Regions from separate parts of the Homo sapiens genome. Here all the other regions are linked to region 1. Evidence: fine-mapped expression QTL. A gene starts in region 1. Each other region holds a variant in brackets. All regions are shown on one strand. Distances are between the middles of the regions. Region 1 holds the start of TSC22D4 (TSC22 domain family member 4). Region 2 overlaps ZKSCAN1 (zinc finger with KRAB and SCAN domains 1). Region 3 overlaps SPDYE3 (speedy/RINGO cell cycle regulator family member E3). Region 4 overlaps STAG3 (STAG3 cohesin complex component).

Region 1 (6,126 bases):
AAAAATTAGCCAGGCGTCGTGGCGGGTGCCTACAATCCTGGCTACTCGGGAGGCTGAGGCAGGAGAATCACAACCTGGGAGGCGGAGGTTCAGTGAGCTGAGATCACGCCACTGCACTTCAGCTTGGGTGACAGAGCAAGACTTCATCTCAAATTAAAATATAAAAATTTGTATGTATTTACTCAACAAACATTTCTGCAGAGATCAACAATGTGCCAGGGCCTCTAGACTCAGATACCAGTGCCTGAGGCAGAGAAAGAGACTGCCCAAAGATAATTTTTGAATAGTTTGTAGCAAGTCAGCAAGAAGGAAGGAGGGTCTGGGGAAGGAGGGACCAAGGCTGTGTTCTGAATGTTGCTAGAGGAGAAAAGGTTCTGTAAGGGACAGAGGGATGCAGTCTAGAGGGGTAGGGAGCAGGTGGGAGGCTGCTTCCCAGACTTCACTACTTGGGAGGCCCACAGACTTGGGCTATGGCAGCCGTTGTTACTATGGCTTAAGGGAGAGAAACAGAAGTGTGGATGCTTCTAACAAAGAGATAAAGAATAAATACATAAAGAGGGTAGGTATTGCATTGTTTTATTTTTACGTACCCCTAAAGAGGGGTTAGAGGCCGGGCGTGGTGGCTTATGCCTGTAATCCCAGCACTTTGGGAGGCCGAGGCGGGCGGATCACGAGGTCAGGAGATCAAGACCATCCTGGCTAACACGGGGAAACCCCGTCTCTAGTAAAAATACAAAAAATTAGCCGGGCATGGTGGCGGGTGCCTGTAGTCCCAGCTACAGGCTGAGGCAGGAGAATGGCGTGAACCCGGGAGGTGGAGCTTGCAGTGAGCCGAGATAGAGCCACTGCACTCCAGCCTGGGCGACAGAGCGAGACTCCGTCTCAAAAAAAGAGGGGTTAGAAATTTCCCTGAGGCCAGGCACCATGGCTCACGCCTGTAATGTCAGCTCTTTGGGAGGCCCAGGTGGAAGTATCATTTGAGGCCAGGAATTCGAGACCAGCCTGGGCAACATAGTAATAACCTGTCTCTACAAAAACTAAAAAATTAGCCAGGTATGGTGGTATACACCTGTGGTCCCAGCTACTAGGGAGGCAGAAGCAGGAGGATCACTTGAGGCCGGGAGTTCAAGACCACCCTGGGCAACATTGCAAGATCCCCATCTCTACCAAAAAAAAAAATTTTTTTTTAAAGAAATTTAGCCAGGCGTAGTAGTGTGTGTCTGTGGTCCCAGCTACTTGGGAGGCTGAGGCAGGAGCATGGCTTGAGCCCAGGAGTTCCAGGCTGTGGTGAGCTATGATCGCACCACTGCACTCCATCCTGGGCAACAGAGAGAGAGAGAGACCCTGTCTCTAAAAAAAAAGGCGGGGGCAGGTTGGGGGAAAGGGGAATAGTATAACATCTAGGATCTGATTTCAAATAGTCCAGCAAACTACAGCTGGCCCCCACACAATGTCATTTCATTGAATGTCATTTCATTATAACATTGATGATTTTCTAAAAATTGATTTTGGGCTGGGACCACCATCTGTGTGGAGTTTGCATGGTCTCCCCATGTCTGCATGGCATGTTTGAAAATTTTCATAATAATCCACTTTTTTTTTTTTTTTGAGACATGGTCTCACTCTGTTGCCCAGGCTGGAGTGCAGTGGCACAATCTTGGCTCACTGCATCCTCAACCTCCTGGGCTCAAGAGATCCTCCTGCCTCACAGCCTCCTGAGTAGCTGGGACTACAGGTATACATCACCACACTCAGTTTTTTTTTTTTTTTAAGATGGAGTCTCACTCTGTCACCAGGCTGGAGTGCAGTGGCGTGATCTCGACTCACTGCAACCTCCGCCTCCCAGGTTGAAGTGATTCTCCTGCCTCAGCCTCCCGAGTAGCTGGGACTACAGGTGCCCGCCACCACACCTGGCTAATTTTTGTATTTTAAGTAGAGACTTGGTTTCACCATGTTGGCCAGGATGGTCTTAATCTCTTGACCTCGTGATCCGCCCGCCTCGGCCTCCCAAAGTGCTAATTTTTTAAATTTTTTGTAGAGATGGGGATCTCGTTATATTGCCCAGGCTGGTCACGAACTCCTGGGCTCAAGCGATCCTCCCACCTTTGAGTAGCTGGAATTATAGGTGCACATCACCATGCCCAGCTATTTTTTTTTATTTTTTGTAGAGATGGGGTCTTGCTATTATATTGTCCAAACTGGTCTCAAGCGATCCTCCTTCCTCGACCTCCCAAAGTGCGGAGATTACAGGCATGAGCCACCACCGGGATCCGGCAATAATCCACTTTTAAAAATAAGGAATGGGGGGAATAATGCAGTTGCTGTGAAAACCAAAGGAGAATGACAGTAACAGCCACAGCTGCCCCACAGCAGGGACTGGGAACTTCTGGGTGGGCATGCAGCACACCTCCCGGCCTGTGCCTTCCGTCTCTTCTGTGTGTCTCTAGGCCAATGGCAGCAATTGACTACAAGTAAGGGAATCCCTCGCCTCCCTGCAAGCTCCTCCCCTTTCTCCCCGAGCCCCGCCCCCTGCAGCCCCTCCCTGCAAGAGTGGGGCTAGGGCCCGGCAGGTGTGGGGTTAAGGGAGTCTGTTTGGGGCCCCCAGGAGCAGCAGCCTAAGCAGTGGCTGCAGCAACTGCAACAGCAGCGGCTGTGGCAGGCCTGGCCCCGGGCCAGCTGGCGGGAAGCCCCAGGAGGGAGGGAGGGAGGAGGAAGGGGAGGAAGAGGGGAAGGAGGAGGAGGAGGAGGAGAGGAGCAGTCAGCAGGCCCGAGGAGGCAGGACTTCCTGGTGTGGGGGTTGTCAACAGCCCAGAAAGAGAAAGACGGAGAGGCAGAGACCCAGGGGAGCCGAGGAGCGGAGACACGGACCCAGCAGGGTCACGCGGGAGGAGACTCGGGACACCCACTCGCTGGCTGCCACCGGGAGCAGAGGGGGGCTCGGCCGCCCCCTCCCACATCAGTCTCCAGACCCTTGGGGCTTCAGAGGCCGCTCCTAGGCTCCTCGGAGGAGGCGCGGGTTTCTTCTTTTCCGGAGAGCAAACTTTCCTCGGAGATGCCTGGCAGGATGAGCCGCGGCCCCCGGAGAGGACGGGACAGCCTCTGATCGCCGCCTGCGTGCCCCGCCACTGCCCATGGCCAGGAGGCCCCAGGGAACGGACAGCCCGACCTCTTAGGCGCCGGGACCCTCAGGCTCAGATCAGTGGCCGAGGCCCCAGAGGTAGGGTTCAGGGCTGGGTGGGGCGCTGGGGGGTAGCCGGGCAGGGCCTGCCCCAGAGATGTGGGAGCTGGGGTGAGGGTGGGGGCTCGAGGCCCAGGAGAGGTCTCTCTGAGTGGCCGGGCCAGGCTGGGGAGCTGCTTCAGCCTGGTTCTCCCAGGCCCTGGAGTCCGAGCTCTTGGGACAATACGGGCCCCCTGAGTCAGAATCCCAGGCGAGAAATGCCCAACTCTGGGACTCATCTGCCTCTTTCTACTCTGAGTGCCTTCTTGGATCCAGTCCCCTCTGCCCTGGTCTCTGTCATCTCTTGCCTGTCTCTGGGTCTCTGACGGTTTCCCCTTCCCCCACTCTGCTCCCCGGAGAGGAAGCCCCGGAGGTGGCCTGCCCACTGGTTTCACACACACACACACACACACACACACACACACACACACACACACACACACTCTCTCTCTCTCTCTCTCTCTCTCTCTCCCCCTCTTTTTCCAGTTTGCAAACTCAGCTCTGGAGTTCAGCAGCAACAGCAGCAGGAAAAACCTGCCCCTGCTCCCCCCTCCCGCCACCTCCCCTCTCCTCTTCTCCCCTCACCCAGCAGGCACCCCCGGTTCCCGCCAGGCCCTCCTGCCATGTCGGACCCAGACGTCCCCAGGGGCTCGGATGTCCCCGCCATGTGGCCCCCTTGTTCCAGGGGTGCCTGAGCCCCTTCAAGGAGCCCCAACCCACCCCCAACCTTGGCCCAGCCCTGAGCCCCAGGGACCATGAGCGGGGGCAAGAAGAAGAGTAGTTTCCAAATCACCAGCGTCACCACGGACTATGAGGGCCCTGGGAGCCCAGGGGCTTCGGATCCCCCTACCCCACAGCCCCCAACCGGGCCCCCGCCCCGCCTGCCCAATGGGGAGCCCAGCCCCGATCCGGGGGGCAAGGGCACCCCCCGGAATGGCTCCCCACCACCTGGGGCCCCTTCCTCCCGTTTCCGGGTGGTGAAGCTGCCCCACGGCCTGGGAGAGCCTTATCGCCGCGGTCGCTGGACGTGTGTGGATGTTTATGAGCGAGACCTGGAGCCCCACAGCTTCGGCGGACTCCTGGAGGGAATTCGAGGGGCCTCAGGGGGCGCCGGGGGCAGATCTTTGGATTCCAGGTTGGAGCTGGCCAGCCTCGGCCTGGGCGCCCCCACCCCACCGTCAGGCCTGTCTCAGGGCCCCACCTCCTGGCTCCGTCCACCCCCCACCTCTCCTGGACCTCAGGCCCGCTCCTTCACTGGGGGACTGGGCCAGCTGGTGGTGCCCAGCAAAGCCAAGGCAGAGAAACCCCCACTGTCGGCCTCCTCACCCCAGCAGCGCCCCCCAGAGCCTGAGACCGGTGAGAGTGCGGGCACATCCCGGGCTGCCACGCCCCTGCCCTCTCTGAGGGTGGAAGCGGAGGCTGGGGGCTCAGGGGCCAGGACCCCTCCACTGTCCCGGAGGAAAGCTGTAGACATGCGGCTGCGGATGGAGTTGGGTGCTCCAGAAGAGATGGGGCAGGTAAGACCTGGGTTCTAGGGCTGGCCCATCAGCCCTGGCCTAACCTCTATCTTGAGCCTCCTTCCTCCTCCTCCCCCCCCTCTCCTCCTCCTTCTCCATCACTTTATAAGATCAGATAGCCCTCTTCTCTGTGCCTGCCAGGTCACTCTGAAGCCCCTTCCTCCTACTTCATTTTCTGTCTCAGCCTCCTTCCTGTTTTTCTGCACCCTCTCTCTTTCTCCCTGGCCTCTGATTCTCTGTCTTGGTCTTCATGTAGCCTGTAGCATATGTGGCCCCCTCATCAGGCCTTCTTCTGTCTTGGTCTCAGCCCCTCTGCCTCTAGGTGATGAGGGTGGAGGCCCCAGCTGGATAGCTGGGTAGCTGGGTCCCTAGGGGAGGAGCTGCCAGGATTTGGGGAGGAAAAGTAAAAGGTAGGCCTTGCGCGCTGCCAGTCTCTGCACTGCAGCCCCATCCTGAATGTGGGGGTCTTTCTTTTCCCCCAGCCACCCATCTCAGTCCTGCCTCCAGCTTTGCTGTAAGCCAAGTGTCACTGAGAAATTGGGTGGGGGGAACACCTCTCAGGGACAGGGAGGGGGCCTGCTGGTTGATCCATTTCACCCCCCAGTTGTCTGGCTCACCCCCGTCCATCTGAGCCTCTCTGTGATTGATAACTCGAGGGTGACCACTGTGGAGTGGGAGAGAAGAGCCCCAGAAGGGAGTTCAGTCCCATACTCTTTCTCCTTCCTGTCTCCAAAAGAGGAACAAGCCAGGCTGTGGGGGCAGGATGCCTGGGTCCCCATGGTGGGGGTGAGCAGCCAGAGATAGAAGGTTGGATACTTCTGTCCTGTGGGAGAATATAACACCTCGGAGGTCTGGGGAAAGGCAGGGAGTGTGAGGATGCGAACTCTTTCCCCTTCCTGGCCTTGGGCACAAACCACAGTATAAAAATAACCTGGGACTGGATGTCTGGGTCCTGTCAGGACCGGTCAGGACTGGCTCCCCCCAAACCCCTCCTGGCCTCAAGCTCACATCTCTCGTGATGCCCCCTCCTACCCCCCCTCCCCCAACTCTTCTTGAACTCTTGCATTCAGCACCCACCCCAGGGGAGAAGATGCTGTTTCTCTTCCTGTCCTGTCCCCAGACTCTTCCAAAGCAAACCCCCTTGGCCTCCAGCTTCCCTGCTCTCTGTCCTTAAGCCTGGCCTGAGCTTCTCTTGGGGCCACAGACCCTGCCTCTCTCTCTCAGTGCCCCCTACTCCCCAGCCTTCCCCCACCTCCTGACGGTCTTCTGTTTGCACGCATCTGTTTTGCTATTTCCTTGCCCAAAAGTCTGTCTCCCTTCCACGTCCCCTCATGCCTCTTCTCCCTCTTAACAGAGGGGAGTGGTGGAGAAGGGCCAGGGGACACCACCTGG
Region 2 (6,126 bases), 430 kb after region 1:
ATTTTTTATTTTTTTTTGTATTTTAGTAGAGACAGGGTTTCACCATGTTGGCCAGGATGGTCTTGATCTCCTGACCTCATGATCTGCCCGCCTCGCCCTCCCAAAGTGCTGGGATTACAGGTGTGAGCCACCGTGCCCGGCTGTTTCTTTACTTCTCTAATAAACTTGCTTTCTCTTAAAAAAAAAAAAAAATGAGCCTTGGCAGGGCACGGTGGCTCACGCCTGTAATCCCAGCACTTTAGGAGGCTGAGGCAGGCGGATCACAAGGTCAAGAGATCGAGACCATCCTGGCCAACATGGTGAAACTCTGTCTCTATTAAAAATACAAAAATTAGCTGGGTGTGGTGGCACATGCCTGTAATCCCAGCTACTCGGGTGGCTGAGGAAGGACAATTGCTTGAACCCAGGAGGCAGACATTGCAGTGAGCTGAGATTGCACCCCTGCACTACAGCCTGGTGACAGAGTGAGACTCTGTCTCACCAAAAAAAAAAAAAAAGCCTCCATATACATTGGCCAGCTTTAACAATTGTTACATGGTTAGTCCTTTTAATTCATTCCCCCATGGTCTTGAACTCGTGACCTCAAGTGATCCACCTGCCTCAGCCTCCCAAAGTGCTGGGAGCCACCGTGAGCCACTGTGCCTGGCCCCAAAATCTCCATTTTATAGACCAGGAAACAGGCTCCAAAAAGTCACTTTTCCAATATCACACAACTGATACGTGGGAGCATCAGGAGTGAAACTTGGCCCCCTTTCTCCAAAGCCTGTGCTCTACTGCCTCTCAGTTAGACGGGGAAGAAAGAGATGGGAAATGGAAACAGGATCACCAGGACAGAGGGAAGAACCGGGAAACCTACACACATTTCAAGAGCCACACCTGTGTCGATGCTTTGGTGGGGCTCCATTCAGCCTCTTGGTCAACGGGTCTTTGTCTAGTTATGAAACCATTAAGTGGTTATGCTGGGGCTTGAAGAAAATCCATCTATTTCCAAACCCATTGTCCTTTCCAGGGCTGAGATGCTCCTCAAGCAAAGGGGCTTAGAGCTGCTGTAAAATATTAACGTCAAAAGAGACCTTAAGGACAATCTGGTTAAACTCTTGTTTCTTGTTTTCAGTTGAAGAAACCAGTGCCTGAAGAAGTCGGATCCAAGGTACACTAGTTAGCTAATTAGTATCAAAGCTGAGAGCACAAGCCAGATTCTCCAATCCTGTGTGCTTGCTGTGTCTCAAGAGATTTTTTATTTTTATTTATTTATTTGCGGTAGGGCCTCACTCTGTTGCCCAGGCTGGAGTGCAGTGGTGTGATCATAGCTCACTGCAGCCTCCAACTCCTGGACTCAAGTGATCCTCCCACCTCAGCCTCCCGAGTAGGCACATGCTACCATGCCTGGCTATTTTTCTAAAAAATTATTTCTTTTTTTTTTTTTTTTGAGACGGAGTCTCGCTCTGTCGCCCAGGCTGGAGTGCAGTGGCGTGATCTCGGCTCACTGCAAGCTCCGCCTCCCAGGTTCACACCATTCTCCTGCCTCAGCCTCCCGGGTAGCTGGGACTACAGGCACCCGCCACCATGCCCGGCTAATTTTTTGTATTTTTAGTAGAGACGGGGTTTCACCGTGTTAGCCAGGATGATCTCGATCTCCTGACCTCGTGATCCACCCGCCTCGGCCTCCCAAAGTGCTGGGATTACAGGCGTGAGCCACTGCGCCCAGCCCCTAAAAAATTATTTCTAGGGGTTTTACCATGTTGCCCAGGCTGGTAGAGAACTCCTGGGCTCAAGCAATCCTGCTGCCTCAGCCTCCCGAGTAGCTGGGACCACAAAAGAAAAATAATTCCCATGCACGCCACCATGCTGGACAATTTTTTTTTTTTTTTTTTTTTTGGTGAGACTGAGTCTTGCTCTGTCGCCAGGCTGGAGTGCAGTGGCGCCATCTCGGCTCACTGCAACCTCCAACTCCCTGGTTGAAGCAATTCTCCTGCCTCAGCCTCCCAAGTTGCTGGGATTGCAGGCATGCGCAATCACACCTAGCTTTTTGTATTTTTAGTAGAGATGGGGTTTCACCATGTTGGGCAGGATGGTCTGGATCTCCTGACCTCAGGATCTGCCCACCTCGGCCTCCTAAAGTGCTGGGATTACAGGCGTGAGCCACCGCACCCGCACCGCACCTATTTTTTGAAAAAATGTTTCGTAGGGGTTTCGCCATGTTGCCCAGGCTGGTCGAGAATTCCTGTGCTCAAGCAATCCTCCTGCCTCAGCCTCCCAAGTAGCGGGATCAGATGCACACCACCATGCCTGGGAGATTATTGGCTTGACAAAAGAAAAATAATTCCAGTGCCCTTTGCAGCGGAAACCCAGGAGAGGAAAAGATTCCAGCATTTAGTGTTGTCTCTGGCACCTTCCTTCCATTTCCAGTAAGGTGTTCATGGTTCTCTCTAAAAAGGTGCATTTCTGGATCTTCCTCGCTCGTTCTCATCATCACCTATTTTTGCTGCCATCAGCTGGCCAGCAGAGGGTAACCAAACCGTGACTTCCCTTAGAGCAGGCTGGGCAAGCCTCTGGCGCATGACAACTCCGAACATGTCCTTTTTCTTCCAGGAAGCAGAAGACATGTGCAGCATGTTGGAAAGCTGCAAAGACATTTGCTAAAGAAATTGAAAGGAAAAGAGAATGAAAGTGGAATGGTGGAGTTAAACTTCATGAAAAAAATTATTCAGTGCTACTTTTTTTTTTTTTTTTTTTTTTTTTGAGATAGAGTCTCACGCCATCACCCAGGCTGGAGTGCAGTGGCACGATCTCAGCTCATTGCAAGCTCCACCTCCCGGGTTCACGCCATTCTCCTGCCTCAGCCTCCCGAGCAGCTGGGACTACAGGCACCCGCCACCACGCCTGGCTAATTTTATTTTATTTTTTTGTATTTTTTTTAGTAGAGACGGAGTTTCACCGTGTTAGCCAGGATGGTCTCGATCTCCCGACCTCGTGATCCGCCTGCCTCAGCCTCCCAAAGTGCTGGGATTACAGGCGTGAGCCACCATGCCCGGCTCAGTGCTACTTGTTAAAGCATGGTAAGGAAGACTTTATTCAGGACCATCCTAATAAATACAGGAACCACTGCAGTGGGGTCTTGCAGTGAGGGGAGAGAGATTGGGCTCAGCTCTGAACACAGCATGGGCAAGTGGCAATTTATAGCCAAGGAGCAGGATGGGGGTCAGTGTATGGAAAATGATCAAGAGGAAACATCAGAGGGAAGGGGTATTCTTGCTGAACACAGGCCAGGCTGATCAGACATCGCCTGGGGGATGGTGGAGGACAAGGAACCTGACCAGATAAATATCAAGAGTAATTAGATATGGGCTGGGAGCGGTGGCTCACGCCTGTCATCCCAGCACCCTGGGAGGCTGAGGCAGGTGGATCACTTGAAGTCAGGAGTTCGAGACCAGCCTGGCCAACATGGCGAAACCCCGTCTCTAAAAAAAATACAAAAATTAGCTGGGTGTAGTGGTGTGCACCTGTAGTCCCAGCTACTCGGGAGGCTGAGTCAGGAGAATCACTTGAACCCAG[G/C]GGGTGGAGGTTGCAGTGAGCTGAGATCATGCCCTCCAGCTTGGGCAACAGAGAGAGATTCTGTCTCCAAAAAAAAAAAAAAAAAAAAAAAAAAAATCAAGAAAGAAAAGAAAAAGAAAAAAGCCTAAGTAGATATGGAGGGTGGGAGGTTTTTGCTAAACTTAGCAGGGTTCTTGCTAAAACTGGATTTTAGGCCCTTGCATGGTGGCTCATGAATATAATCCCAGCACTTCGGGAAGCTGAGGTGGGAGGATTGCTTGAGGCCCAGGAATTTGAGACCAGCCTGGGCAACATAGCAAGACCCTGTCTCTGCAAAAAATTAAAAAAAAATCTAGGCGTAGTGATGCATGCCTGTAGTCCCAGCTGAGGCTGAAATAGGAGGATTGCTTGAGTCCAGGAGGTTGAGGTTGCAGTGAGCCACAATCGTGCCACTGCACTCCAGCCTGAGCAACAGAACGAGACTTGTCTTACAAAAATAAAGAAAAATAAAATCCAGTTCTGGGTCGGGCACAGTGGCTCACGCCTGTAATCCCAGCACTTTGGGAGGCCAAGGTGGGAGGATTGCTTGAGGACAGGAGTTCGAGACCAGCCTGGGCAACATAGGGGGACCCCCATCTCTATAAAAGAAAAAATAATTATTAAGAAAAAATAGGGCTGGGTGTGGTGGCTCACACCTGTGAGGCCAAGGCAGGCAGATCACTTGAGCCCAAGAGTTCAAGACCAGCTTGGGAAATAGCCAGACTGTCACTACAAAAAATACCCAAAAAAGGCCAGGTGCGGTGGCTCACGCCTGTAATCCCAGCACTTTGGGAGGCCTAGGCAGGCAGATCATGAGGTCAGGAGATCGAGACCATCCTGGCTAACACTATGAAACCCCGTCTCTACTAAAACATACAAAAAAAGTTAGCCGGGCACAGTGGCGGGCGCCTGTAGTCCCAGCTACTCGGGAGGCTGAGGCAAGAGAATGGCGGGAACCCGGGAGGCGGAGCTTGCAGTGAGCCGAGATGGCGCCACTGCACGCCAGCCTGGGAGACAGAGCGAGACTCCGTCTAAAAAAAAAAAAAAAAAAACCCAAAAATTACCTGGGTGTGGTGGTGTATTCGTATACACACACACACACACACACACACGTGTATCTATACACATATACACATACACATGTGTATATATAATAAAAATATATATGAGACCTATGAGCCATCCCAGCAAATTATCAAACCTGAGACTGAGGAGAAGATTGTGGAAGCCCTTGATTTATAGCCGGTCCAAAGCACAGGTGAAAACCCGGAATGTAAGACTGGCGTCTGAAATGGGGGCAGTCTTGAGGGACTGAGCCCACAACCTGTGGAGTCTGCATCAGTTACAGGTAGTGTCAGAATTGAATTGAATCGTATGGCACCCAGTTGGTGTCCAGAGAATTGGTTGGTGTATGAAAAAAAATCCCACATTGTGTCAGAAGTGTGAGTAAAAACAGTCAGAGATGTGTTTGGATGCCTCCTGGACACAACCTCACATCCTCCCAGTTCACCTTTTTTTTTTTTTTTTTTTTGAGACAAAGTCTCACTCTGTTGCCCAAGCTGGAGTGCAGTGGTGCGATCTCGGCTCACTGCAACCTCCCCCTCCTGGGTTCAAGTGATTCTCCTGGCTCAGCCTCCCGAGTAGCTGGGACTACAGGCGCCCGCCACCACGCCTGGTTAATTTTTGTATTTTTAGTAGAGAGGGGGTTTCACCATGTTGGCCAGGCTGGTTTCGAACTCCTGGCCTCAGGTGATCTGCCTGCCTCGGCCTCCCAAACTGCAGGGATTACAGGCATAAGCCACCATGGCTGGCCATGTCTATCAGTCTTAAAGAGTCTGTTGTTATCAGTAATTCCATATGGGGAGAGGGTATAATGAGGCATGTTTGGCTCCCCCTTCCCATCATGGCCTGAACTAGTTTTTCAGGTTAACTTTGGAATGCCCTTGGCTGAGAGGAGAGGTCCATTCAGGTGACTGGGTGGCCTTTGAAATTTAATTTTGGTTTGCAAAGTAAACAGATAGTTTTGCATGAGAATTTTGTTTGTGGGTTGCAGCTCCAGTCTTTTAACTTTGGAATACTTTTTTTTCTTCACCCCCAATGTGTATTTATGCAACCAAGGATGAGAAAAACAAAGAACAAAAAACAAACCAGCACAAGCACTGCCACCTAGAGATGATAATTTATTGTTTTACCATGACTCAGAAGAGAAACAACATAAAGAGAATATTTCAAATCCCCACAATTTCCTTCCTCAACCTCACTACTCTTAACATTTCTTTATCAGACGCCACTGGCTTCCTAAAATGGACCACTGACTATGTATGTGTACACATTTCATTATGCTGCCTTTTCTCTTATGATTAAAACTTTAGCCCTCATTCGAGGTTTCCAATGGTTACTTTTAGTGGAGGAGTTCCCTAGCTTTTAAAAAACCACTTTTCCTCTAAGATTCCATTATTTATTGAAAGAAGTCTTTCTAGAAATGTTAAGGAGGATTTTAAATGAACACATTCAATTAAAAAAAAAATCACGTATTGAACATCTACCAAGCAT
Region 3 (6,126 bases), 150 kb after region 1:
TAGGTTCCACTCCACGGTGGCACGCTTGGTTAACCTGGGCATGCACAGGGTACATGACCTTCAACCTGCGGGTCGATGGCAATTGAAAAACAACTGACAACTTCATTACATAAAAGTTGAACTGATTCGGGTGCGGTGACTCACGCCTGTAATCCCAGCACTTTGGGAGGCCAAGGCAGGTGGATCACCTGAGGTCGAGGAGTTCAAGACCAGCCTGGCCAAAATGGTGAAACCCCGTCTCTACTAAAAATATAAATATTAGCCAGGCGTGGTGGCGCACCCTTGTAATCCCAGCTACCCCAGAGGCTGAGGCAGCAGAATGCTTGAACCTAGGACGTGGAGGTTGCAGTGAGCTGAGATCGTGCCATTGCACTCCAGCCTGGGTGACAAGAGCGAAACTCCATCAAAAAAAAAAAAAAAAAAAGTTGAACTAGATTTGGTCTGATGCAGTTACAGATTTACAAACCGCGTCCCACCCTCCTGCCGACACCTTCCACTCCTCATTCTTGAGGGATTAGGGATGGAGGTCATGCTTCTGTATCGACTTCATGCTGACTAGGGGCACTTAGTCCCCTAAAGTGAGAGGAATGAAACTCTTGGGCTTCTGAGTTCAAATGAGTTCTGGGGTCACCTGGAGTAGCTTGAAAGGCTGGTATTGTTGTAATACAAGCTGAAGGTGGAAGTGTTGGATCCTGGAGGACAAACAGCTCACCATCCATTTAAATAAATAGGACCAAAAAGTAACAGAACAGTGGCCACGAGGCGCCCCAACAGAGGAAGAAACCAGGTGAGGTGTGGTATAGTGGACTCGACTGCCTTCTAAATCTCAGTGGTTGGCCAGGTGCGGTGGCTCACGCCTGTAATTCCAGCAAAAGAAGAGCCGAGGCAGGGTGATCACGAGGTCAGGAGTTCAAGACCAGCCTGGCAAACATGGTGAAACCCCGTCTCTACTGAAAATACAAAAATTAGCCAGGTGTGGTGGCGTGTGCTGTAGTCCCAGCTACTAGGGAGGCTGAGGCAGGAGAATTGCTTGAACCTGGGAGGCGGAGGTTGCAGTGAGCCGAGATTGTGCCACTGCACTCCAGCCTAGGTAACAGAGCGGGACTCCATCTCAGTCAATCAATCTCAGTGGTTGTACTACCCTTGATATGGTTCAGCTCCGTATCCCCACCCAAATCTCATGTCAAATTGCAATTCCCAGTGTTGAGGGAGGGACCTGGTAGGAGGTGATTGGCTCATGGCGGCTGACGTCCCCCTTGCTGTTCTCATGATAGTGAGTGAGCGCTCATGGGATCTGGTTGTTTAGAAGCATGCACCACCTCCCGCTTCACTCTCTCTGTCTCTCCTGCTCCACCATGGCCAGAAACGTGCCTGCTTCCCCTTCGCCTTCTGCCGTGATTGTCAGTTTCCTGAGGCCTCCCCAGCCATGCTTCCTGTACAGCCTGCAGAACTGTGAGTCAATTAAACCTGTTTTCTTCATAAATTCCCCAGTTTCCAGTAGTTCTTTATAGCAGTGTGAAAACAGACTAATGGACCCTTCTGGTTGAAGGAATGTAGCCATTCTGCTTGTTTGACTATTTCCTTTCTATTCATCTCTATTTCCCGGGAGGTGTTTATCCAAGTGCAATAGGAGATATTGGTGACTGCAGAGTCCCCTCAGTGTTCTGCTAGTAAATAGTTGAAGGTTGATCAGTGATCTCCTGCATTTTCAGTCTGGCATGGAAAAGCCCCCATGTAACTGGTAAAGGTATCAGTAAGCACCAGGAGGTATCTAAATCCACCAGGAGCCATAGGCATCATGTTGACGTCCATTTACCAGTCTTCCCTGGCAAGATTCTCTGAATTGTACTGCCTTGGCCAAAAGAGGTATGGGAGGGGCTGGGCACAGTGGCTCACGCCTGTAATCCCAGCATTTTGGGAGACCAATTCGGGTAGATCATTAGAGGTCAGGGGTTCAAGACCATCCTGGCCAACATGGTGACATTCCATCTCTACTAAAAATACAAAAAGTTAGCTGGGTTTGGTGTTGGGTGCCTGTAATCCCAGCTACTCGGGAGGCTGAGGCAGGATAATCACTTGAACCTGGGAGGTGGAGGTGGCAGTGAGCTGAGATCTCGCCATTGCACTCCAGCCTGGGCAACAAGAGCGAAACTTCATCTCAAAAAATAAAGAAGTCTGGGTGCGGTGGCTCGTGCCTGTAATCCCAGGACTTTGGGAGGCCAAGACGGGTGGATCATGAGGTCAGGAGTTCAAGACCAGCCTGGCCTAGATGGTGAAACCCTGTCTCGAGTAAAAATACAAATATTAGCTGGGCATGGTGGCACACACCTGTAATCTCAGCTACTCAGAAGTCTGAGACAGAAGAATTGCCAAAACCCGGGAGGGAGAGGTTGCAGTGAGCCGAGATCGCGCCACTGCACTCTAGCCTGGGCGACAGAGCAAGACTCTGTCTCGAAAGAAAGAAAGAGAAAGGAAATTCCCCAGGGAAGTACCTCCGCTTATTTCATGAAGAGGTACTGAAGGAAGCAGAGGCATGTGGAGGACTTCCCCACCTCGTGCAGCTATTTGGGCCGTGGCGTCTGAAATTTCTTATTTCAGAGTCACCCCTTTGATGACCTTGGCAGTGGACTGCAGTCATCTGTTTAGGCCTCTCCATGGCCCGCGTCAATGCCGGTATTTCTGTCTGTTGCGCATTTGATTTCCTTGTTGTTGGCATTTAGAAGGCCCCCTGTTTCCCAGATCACACCACGGGCATGGACCGCAGAGATTGCGTCTTGTGAGTCTGTAGAAACAGTCAAGGCCTTGTCCTCTCTTAGGTCCAGAGCTCAGGTTAATGCAGATTTTCCCGGCCGTCTGTGCTGAACTCCCTGCGGGGAGGCTCCTGGCTGGTTTCCTGTAGGTAGACAGCTACACATCCTGCCCTTCATTGGCTTCTTTTCATGAAGCTCCTGCTGTCTACAAAACATGTCTCCCTTTTCTTCTTGAACCACATCTCTGTTATTGAAACTCTAGAAGTCAGCCAGGCACGGTGGCTATGCCTGTAATCCCAGCACTTTGGGAGGCCAAGGTGGGCGGATCACCTGAGGTCAGGAGTTCAAGACCAGCCTGGCCAACATGGCGAAACCCTGTCTCTAATACAAATACTAAAATTAGCCAAGCATGGTGGCCGCTGCACTCCAGCCTGGGCGACAGAGCAAGACTCTGTCTCAAATAAAGAAAGAGAAAGTATCATGCTTTTCAGAGTTCTGTGGGTTGTTATAGTGAATTATCAAACCTGAGGACGTGGTGGGAACCTCCAAATTTGCAGCCAGTTGGTGAGAAGTACATGCAGTCTGTGGACACCCAAGCTTGCAGCTGCATCTGAAGCGAGGGCAGCCTAGCGGGGGCTGGTGGCCTTAACCTGTAGCATTTGATGTAACATCAGGGAGTTGACATCAGAATTACGTCACACAGGCCAGGTGCAGTGGCTCATGCTTATAATCCCAGCAATTAGAAAGGCAAGATAAGAAGATCGCTTGAGCT[T/G]CAGTCTGAGCCCGCAGTGAGCTGTGACCGCACCACTGCACCCCAGTCTGGGTGACAGCACAAGACCCCGACTCCAAAAATAAAAAAGAAAAATCACAAAGAATTGCATGGCAGAGCGCCTGTCTTTCACAGCTTGAACTGTTGCAGGAACTTTCTTTTTTTCTTTTTTTTCTTTTTTTTTTTGTGATGGAGTCTCGCTCTGTCACCCAGGCTGGAGTGCAGTGGCGCGATCTCAGCTCACTGCAGGCTCCACCTCCTGGGTTCACACCATTCTCCTGCCTCAGCCTCCGGAGTAGCTGGGACTATAGGCGCCTGCCACCGCGCCCAGCTAATTTTTTGTATTTTTAGCAGAGATGGGGTTTCACCATATTAGCCAGGATGGTCTTGATCTCCTGACCTTGTGATCCGCCCGCCTCAGCCTCCCAAAGTGCTGGGATTACAGTCCTGAGCCACCGCGCCTGGCCCTTTTTTTTTTTTTTTTTTTTGAGAGGGGTTGGGGAGACATATTCTCTGCTGGTGATTCTCCTGCCTGGTCTCGAACTCCTGCTGGGATCACAGGCGTGAGCCACCACGCCCAGCCACCTTTAGAGTTTTCTTACCACCTGGTTTTCCTCTCTCAATATCTTTCTCTCATTTCCTGCTTTAAAACTCTAGCCTGGGGTCTGGGCGCAGTAGCTCATGCCTATAATCCCAGCACTTTGGGAGACTGAGGCGGGTGGATCACTTGAGGTCAGGAGTTTGAGACCAGCCTGGCCAACATGGTGAAACCTTGTCTCTACTATTTTTACAAAAGTTAGTCAGACGTACAGGCGGGTGCCTGTAGTCCCAGCTACTTGGGAGGCTGAGGCAGGAGAATTTGCTTGAACGCGGAGGTGAAAGTTGCAGGGAGCCGAGGTTGTGCCACTGCACTCCAGCCTGGGAGACAGAGCGAGACTGTCTCCAAAACAAACAAACAAACAAACAAAAAAACCCTGTAGCTTGGGATCAGCCTTCTCTTCTATTGTTTTTCTTTAAAAAATAAAAATTAAAAATAGGCTTCAAGTGATCCTCCCGCCATGACCTCCAAAACTGCTGGGATTGTAGGTGTGAGCACTGCACCCAGCCTTATGTTTTTTTCTACATAAAAAACAACACAGGATTATCTTCCAGAGCTAATAAATATGTTCAAATAACCACAACCCCATTAAGGAAAAATGTCACTTGACAGCAAATAATCAATCCAGACCACAATATGATCACACTCACTGTGAAGGTGAGAAAAGTTCATCTTTATTATGTTTCCCCAAGAGATGCACTGCACTGTTCTCTTGAAAACACACAGCTCATGTCCTCCTTTAGAACACACATCCTCTTTAAAGTAACATACAAACATGCCAAAACAAGATAAAAAATTCCATCTGAATTCTCACATTTCAAACATACACTAAATATCAAATAAAAATTTATTTTTACAAGAATTTAGGGGAACTACCACATAGCTATAAATGTAATATATACATTAACTAAGTATCATAGATAAAAAGTCTGCTCCCTTCAGCAGCATATGTAGTAATAGATACAAAGATTGAAAGGTAAAAGATTTAGGATAAAAAGAATCCTCTCTTAAAAAGGAAAACAAAATTATATTTATGTGTATATAACAGTTATAATACCCATCACACAGCTTTATAGAAACAGCATCTATTCAAAAATACCAGTATTTCCAAAATATTTAAAATAATATTTAAAGTAATAACATTTAAATAAATAAATATATTTAATAAATATTTAAATAAATAAATATATTTAATAAATATTTAAATAAATAAAATAATATTTAAATAATTCTTTGCCCATCTTTTTCGAAATAAATCAATAAAATAGATAGTATATATTAGACATGTTAGTATATATATCTAAGACATGTTAAAAATCACAACTGAATTCTCACAATTCAGTCACAAACCTAAACAGCAAATAAAAATTTCTATGACCAGAATTTGGGGGAACTACCAATAGCTATAAATAGAAGAGATTATTATGGAAGTATCATAGATAAAAAGAGTGCTCGCTTCAGGAGCACATATAATAATACAGAGAAAAATTTAAAGATAATAAAAGATTTAGGATAAAAAGAATTCTCACTTAAAAATGAAAAGAAAATTATCTTTATGTATATATAACAACTATAACTCTCATCAAAAAACTCTACAGGAACAGCATGTTTTCAAAAGTACAACAATTTCCAAACTATTTGAAATAAACCTATTAATGATTCAATGGCCAACATTTTCCAAACAAACCAATAAAATGCATAGTGTGCATGAAGCTATCTGTTACAGTCTGTGGCACTCATATTTCACAAAGAATTCTGTGCCAATCTGAGCCCCTGCACTGTGCCTTCAAATGCTCCTGGACTGTGGCAACCAAGTCCGTAAGAAACAGGACCTCCAGGTTCCGCCCCAGGGAGGTTGGCATTCAGCAATATAAAAAGGGAGGTGGTGCCGCAGGAAAGGGTGGAACTGGAAACACTCCTGGTTTCTTACTTTTCTCCAAGGACTCCTAGAAGTACCCCACCCCACCCCTGCTCCTTGGAGGACAACGTGATCACTGTATTCAGCTCTG
Region 4 (5,000 bases), 270 kb after region 1:
CCCCCATCTCCTGTCGTTTTCGACACAGCAGCCAGAAGGATCCTTTAAAAACAGAGGTTGATCCTGTCGTTCCTCAAAATCCTCCAATGGTTTTCCTACTGCACTCAGAGTAAAAGCCAGTCTCTGCCTTAGATGCTCTGGGATCCTGTACCCTCTTTGGTCTCATGTCCTACAATCTGCATTCTGGCCATAATGGTCTTCTCTGCTGTTCCTTGAACATTCCAGGAACATTCCCCCCATCCCCTCGTGGCCTCAGGACTGGCTGCTTCCTTTGGTATGCTATTCTGATACACACTAAGCACCCTCCCTCACCTGTTATAAAAAATTCGCTGGGAGGCCAATAGGCTGAAATGGCTCCTGCACTTTGGGTTCCTAAGTCAGCAAACTGAAACTCAACTCAGAGTGAAAGTGTTGTGTGTAACCTAGGAGCAGGAAACTTCAGCTTAACCAGTCAGAAACTACCGACTAACCTCTAACAAGAGATTTATGGTCAGTTAACCTCTAAATATGAACTTTCCACTCTAACCAATCAAATAGTTTCTTTGTCTTGCTCCCAGAGACACCTTGTAAGTGTCCCCTCTGGTTTCCTCGGTGGTGGCGCCCTGAACTGCTGGCGGTCTGCCACTGCCTGATTGATAAAATTGCTGAATGCTCAAATAAACCTGTTAAAATTGTAATGTGCCTAAGTGTATCTTTTAACTTATTTTTTAGGCTTTTTGCCCAACATTTGTGTTGAGTCTTCCCTTGATCAGTCTTTGTAAGACTGCAATCCCCACCCCGCCAGCATTCCTCACAATCCTCCCTGCTTTTTTGCCATAGTATTTACTACTATCTGACACTCTCTAAAGAAAGAGATGTTTAGCTTTTTTGTTCACTGCTGTATTCCCAGCACACGGTGCTCAGTATCTATTGAATGAATAAAAACAAACTCTTCAGTTTTATCTTGCCTTCACAAACCCTACGCTTTAGGCAGAGCGATCTATGTACCTCCATGCTTCGCCCAGCACACAGCCTTCTATGCTTTGCTTGTGCTATTCTGCCAGCCCATGATGCTCCTCCTTCCTCTGTTCAGCTTATAAAAATCTTACTTATTTTTTAAGCTCCAGCAATTCCATCTTCTTGGTAAAGCTCTCATCATTCTCTGAATTCTACAGCATTCACTTGTACAAGCCCTCAGGCAGTTATTGGCAATTGTTCATAATTCGAGTTTTCCATAATTAAAATTTCTCCCTTTCCTATTAGATAATAAGCTGCTGGATTCTTCATGGCCCCTAAAACACTGAACATAGTATCTTTCATATAGTAGGTCCCTAACAACTATGTATTAGTTAATTAATTAAAGCAGAGTTTCCTGGTGGTATAAGACATAATTTTAGGTGGTACACAGAAGACAACAAAAGGAAATCACACCTCATCTCACACTATATACAAAAATTAACTCAAACTGGATCACAAATCTAAATTAAGAGCTAAAACTATAACTTTTTTTTTTTTTCTGAGACAGTATCTCGCTCTTTCGCCCAGGTTGGAGTGCAGTGGAACAATCTCGGCTCACTGCAAGCTCCGCCTCCCGGGTTCACGCCATTCTCCTGCCTCAGCCTCCCGAGTGGCTGGGACTACAGGCGCCCACCATCATGCCTGGCTAATTTTTTGTATTTTTAGTAGAGACGGGGTTTCACCGTGTTAGCCAGGATGGTCTCAATCTCCTGACCTCGTGATCCGCCCGCCTCGGCCTCCCAAAGTGCTGGGATTACAGGCGTGAGCCACCATGCCCGGCTAAAACTATAACTCTTAGAAGAAAACACAGGAGTAAATCTTTGTGACCTCATGAATTAGCCAACAATTTCTCAAGATATGGCACCAAAAGCACAAGCAACAAAAGGAAAAAGTTAGATTTCACCAAATTCAAGAACTTTTGTGTTTCAAAGGACACCACCAATAACACGAAAAGACAACCCAAAAAATGGGAGAAAATGTTTGCATATCATAAGGAATCTCATGTCTAGAATATATAAAGAATACTTACAACTCAACAATAAAAAGACAACCCTATTTTAAAATAGCTAAAGGATCAGAACAGGCATTTCTCCAAAGAAGATAAACAAATTGTCAATAAGCACATGAAAAGATGCTCAATACCATTTGTCATTAGGGAAATGCAAATTTAAACCACAATGAGATACCACACCTCACAGCTACTAGGAGATGGATAAAATAAAAAAAGACATTAATAAGTACCGGTGACAACATGGAGAAACCAGAGTCCCCATACATTGCTGGTAGGATTGTAAACTGGTGTAGGTACTTTGGAAAACAGTGTGGTAGTTCCTCAAAAACTTAAACATAGAATTGCCATACGAACCAGCAATTCCACTCCCAGGTATATCTCAAGATAACTGAAAAGATGCATCCACCCAAAAATGTGTACATGCATGTTTAGCAGCATTATGCATAAAAGAGCCCAAATGTCAATCAACTGACAAGTGGATAAGTAGAATGTGGCATATCCACACGATGGCATATTGTTTCGGCCATAAAAAGGTATGAGATACTGATATATGTCAAAGTATGGATGAACGTTGAAAACACTGTACTAAGTGAAAGAAGCTGGACATAAAAGGCCACATATTATATGATTCCATTTATATGAAAGGTCCAGAGTAGGCAAATCAAGAGATAGGAATTATATTAGTGATACTACCTAAGGCTGGGAAGATGGGCAGAGACTGCGAATGGGTATGTGGTTTCTTTTGGAAAGATGAAAATGTTCTAAAATTAGATAGTTGTGATGGTTGTACAATTCAGTGAATATGCTAAGTGTACACTTTAAAAGGGTGATTTTTGGCTGGGCACGGGGGCTCACCAGCACTTTGGGAGCACTTTGGGAGGCTGAGGTGGGCAGATCACAAGGTCAGGAGTTTGAGACCAGCCTGGCCAACATGGTGAAACCCTGTCTCTACTAGAAATACAAAAATTGGCTGGGGGTGGTGGTGGAC[G/A]CCTGTAATCCCAACTACTCAGGAGGCTGAGGGAGGAGAACCACTTGAACGTGGGAGGCGGAGGTTGCAGTGAGTCGAGATCACGCCACTGGACTCCAGCCTGGGTGACAGAGCGAGATTCCGTCTCAAAAAAAAAAAAATGATTTTTATGATATGTAAGTTGTATCTCAATAAAGCTGTCACATAAAGTCCCATTTAAAAATGTACACTAGAAAACACATACTTGCATATGAAATAATGATTGCTACAATGTTGCTTAATATGAAGCTGTTTTTTAAAAAGCAAAGAAAAAACCTTAGGCAGCCAGGCACAGTGGCTCACACCTGTAATCCCAGCACTTTGGGAGGCTGAGGCAGGCAGATCATGAGGTCAGGAGATCAAGACCATCCTGGCTAACATGCTGAAAACCCATCTCTACCAAAAATTCAAAAAAAATTAGCCAGGCGTGGTGGCGGGTGCCTGTAGTCCCAGCTACTCGGGAGGCTGAGGCAGGAGAATGGCGTGAACCTGGGAGGCAGAGCTTGCAGTGAGCCGAGATGGCGCCACTGCACTCCAGCCTGGGCAACAGAGCAAGACTCCATCTCAAAAAATAAACAAAAACAAAAACAAAACCTTAGGCAACTTATAAGACAACAGGTGATCTGAAGGTAAAAAACAATGAAGGTTGTGTAAAAGTGTCCAAGGTTTCGAAAATAATGGAATACAAGATGTTGAGGAGGGTACTCTGAATGTATAGATTTCTTAGTTCAATATTTGGTTTTATCATCAGTTTCTTTTTTTTTTTTTTGAGACAGAGTCTCGCTCTGTCACCCAGGCTGGGGTGCAGTCGCGCAATCTCAGCTCACGGCAACCTCCGCCTCCCGGGTTCAAGTGATTCTCCTGCCTCAGCCTCCTGAGTAGTTGGGATTACAGATGCGCGCCACCATGCCCAGCTAATTTTTGTATTTTTAGTAGAGACGGGGTTTCACCATCTTGGCCAGGCTGGTCTCGAACACCTGACCTCGTGAGCCGCCTGCCTCGGCCTCCCAAAGTGCTGGGATTGCAGGCATGAGCCACCACACCTGGCCCTCTATTTGATTTTTAATACAGGTTTTCAGTTGACTAGATAAACCTTGAAAGAAATTAATACCCTGAATGACAGTAGATGCTCAATGAAATACTTGACAAAATAAGTTTGCAGGCAGCCAACGACCACCTGCTGGGCACCCCCATACCCACACACAGCACCCTACCTTCAACGCGCCTCCTCTTGGAGCTGGGGAGGACCTGAGGGCTGGTCTCTGCTGTGTTCTCCACAGGGCTGAGGGAGTGGCAGTAGGTGGTGACTGGGCCCCAGGGATGGCCAGGTGCCTGGGAGACATGCTGCAGGCACTTTTCTAGATAGGACAGTCTATGAAAGAGGTAGAACCAAAAGCCTGAAGGGGCTACTGGGCCCTCAGCAGGCCCTTCCCTAATCCACATCTCTATCCACCCACCAACTTACAAAAGCTGCTTGTCCTGATGGAAGAGTCGGGGGGAAAACTCTGAAAGGAGCTCCAGGAATGCCAGATTTGGAGGCTGATTGGAGGAGCCAGCTGGAGGAAGCTCAGACAAGGAGAACTGGATGCCTTCCCTTGGTTGGGCAGAATTATTTTAGGAAGAAAGTCTCTTCCCACTTCCCTCCCAGGCCTGAGCTATCCTGTCCAAATGCACCCTCCCCCCGTCCCCAGCTTGTCTCCAAAGGCATACCCACCCCTAACCTGACTGCTATGCCTTGACACACATACCCTCCCTCCGAGACCTCCCTCCAAGACCTCGTTCCCAGCCCTCCCTGGACACAACCTGCAACCAATACTTCCTACTTGTGTAGCATGACCACGAGGTCACGGTTCTGCAGCTGCTGGGGTCCAAAACTCAAGGCAAACCTCCGGGCCAGGTCCCTCATCTCGATGAAGGCAGGAAGCTCATTCAGGCCCTGGGGCCCATGCTCCTGCAGCAGTTCTGTGTACAGCTGTGTCCAGGAGA

What was found. PIP is the estimated chance that this variant, and not a neighbour inherited with it, causes the effect. A credible set is the group of variants that fine-mapping cannot tell apart.
Region 2: its variant is the best candidate, but not a certain one, in a credible set for the expression of TSC22D4 in blood mononuclear cells (TOPMed, PIP 0.54).
Region 3: its variant is the best candidate, but not a certain one, in a credible set for the expression of TSC22D4 in whole blood (TOPMed, PIP 0.76).
Region 4: its variant is the best candidate, but not a certain one, in a credible set for the expression of TSC22D4 in whole blood (TOPMed, PIP 0.53).

What each region holds. Positions count from the first base shown.
Region 1 is chr7:100,475,885-100,482,010 of GRCh38, reverse strand. It overlaps TSC22D4 (TSC22 domain family member 4), which reads left to right and starts at 2,797. Exons shown (of 5, transcript NM_030935.5): 1 at 2,797-3,217; 2 at 3,704-4,734. The coding sequence starts at 3,973. It overlaps TSC22D4-C7ORF61 (TSC22D4-C7orf61 readthrough), which reads left to right and starts at 2,797. Exons shown (of 6, transcript NM_001395846.1): 1 at 2,797-3,217; 2 at 3,704-4,734. The coding sequence starts at 3,973. RefSeq lists enhancers at 2,282-2,391, 3,092-3,161 and a silencer at 2,482-2,641.
Region 2 is chr7:100,041,297-100,047,422 of GRCh38, reverse strand. It overlaps ZKSCAN1 (zinc finger with KRAB and SCAN domains 1), which reads right to left. Exons shown (of 6, transcript NM_003439.4): 6 at 5,734-6,126. Among named protein-coding and RNA genes, the nearest start is that of ZSCAN21, 5.4 kb to the left of the region's middle. The variant G/C (reference allele first, on the strand shown) is at 3,556.
Region 3 is chr7:100,321,017-100,327,142 of GRCh38, reverse strand. It overlaps SPDYE3 (speedy/RINGO cell cycle regulator family member E3), which reads right to left. Exons shown (of 11, transcript NM_001004351.5): 11 at 4,947-6,126. It also overlaps the pseudogene PMS2P1. Among named protein-coding and RNA genes, the nearest start is that of STAG3L5P-PVRIG2P-PILRB, 12 kb to the left of the region's middle. The variant T/G (reference allele first, on the strand shown) is at 3,523.
Region 4 is chr7:100,204,613-100,209,612 of GRCh38, reverse strand. STAG3 (STAG3 cohesin complex component) reads right to left here. Exons shown (of 34, transcript NM_001282717.2): 27 at 4,838-4,986; 28 at 4,480-4,608; 29 at 4,229-4,386. It also overlaps the pseudogene CASTOR3P. Among named protein-coding and RNA genes, the nearest start is that of PVRIG, 13 kb to the left of the region's middle. The variant G/A (reference allele first, on the strand shown) is at 2,997.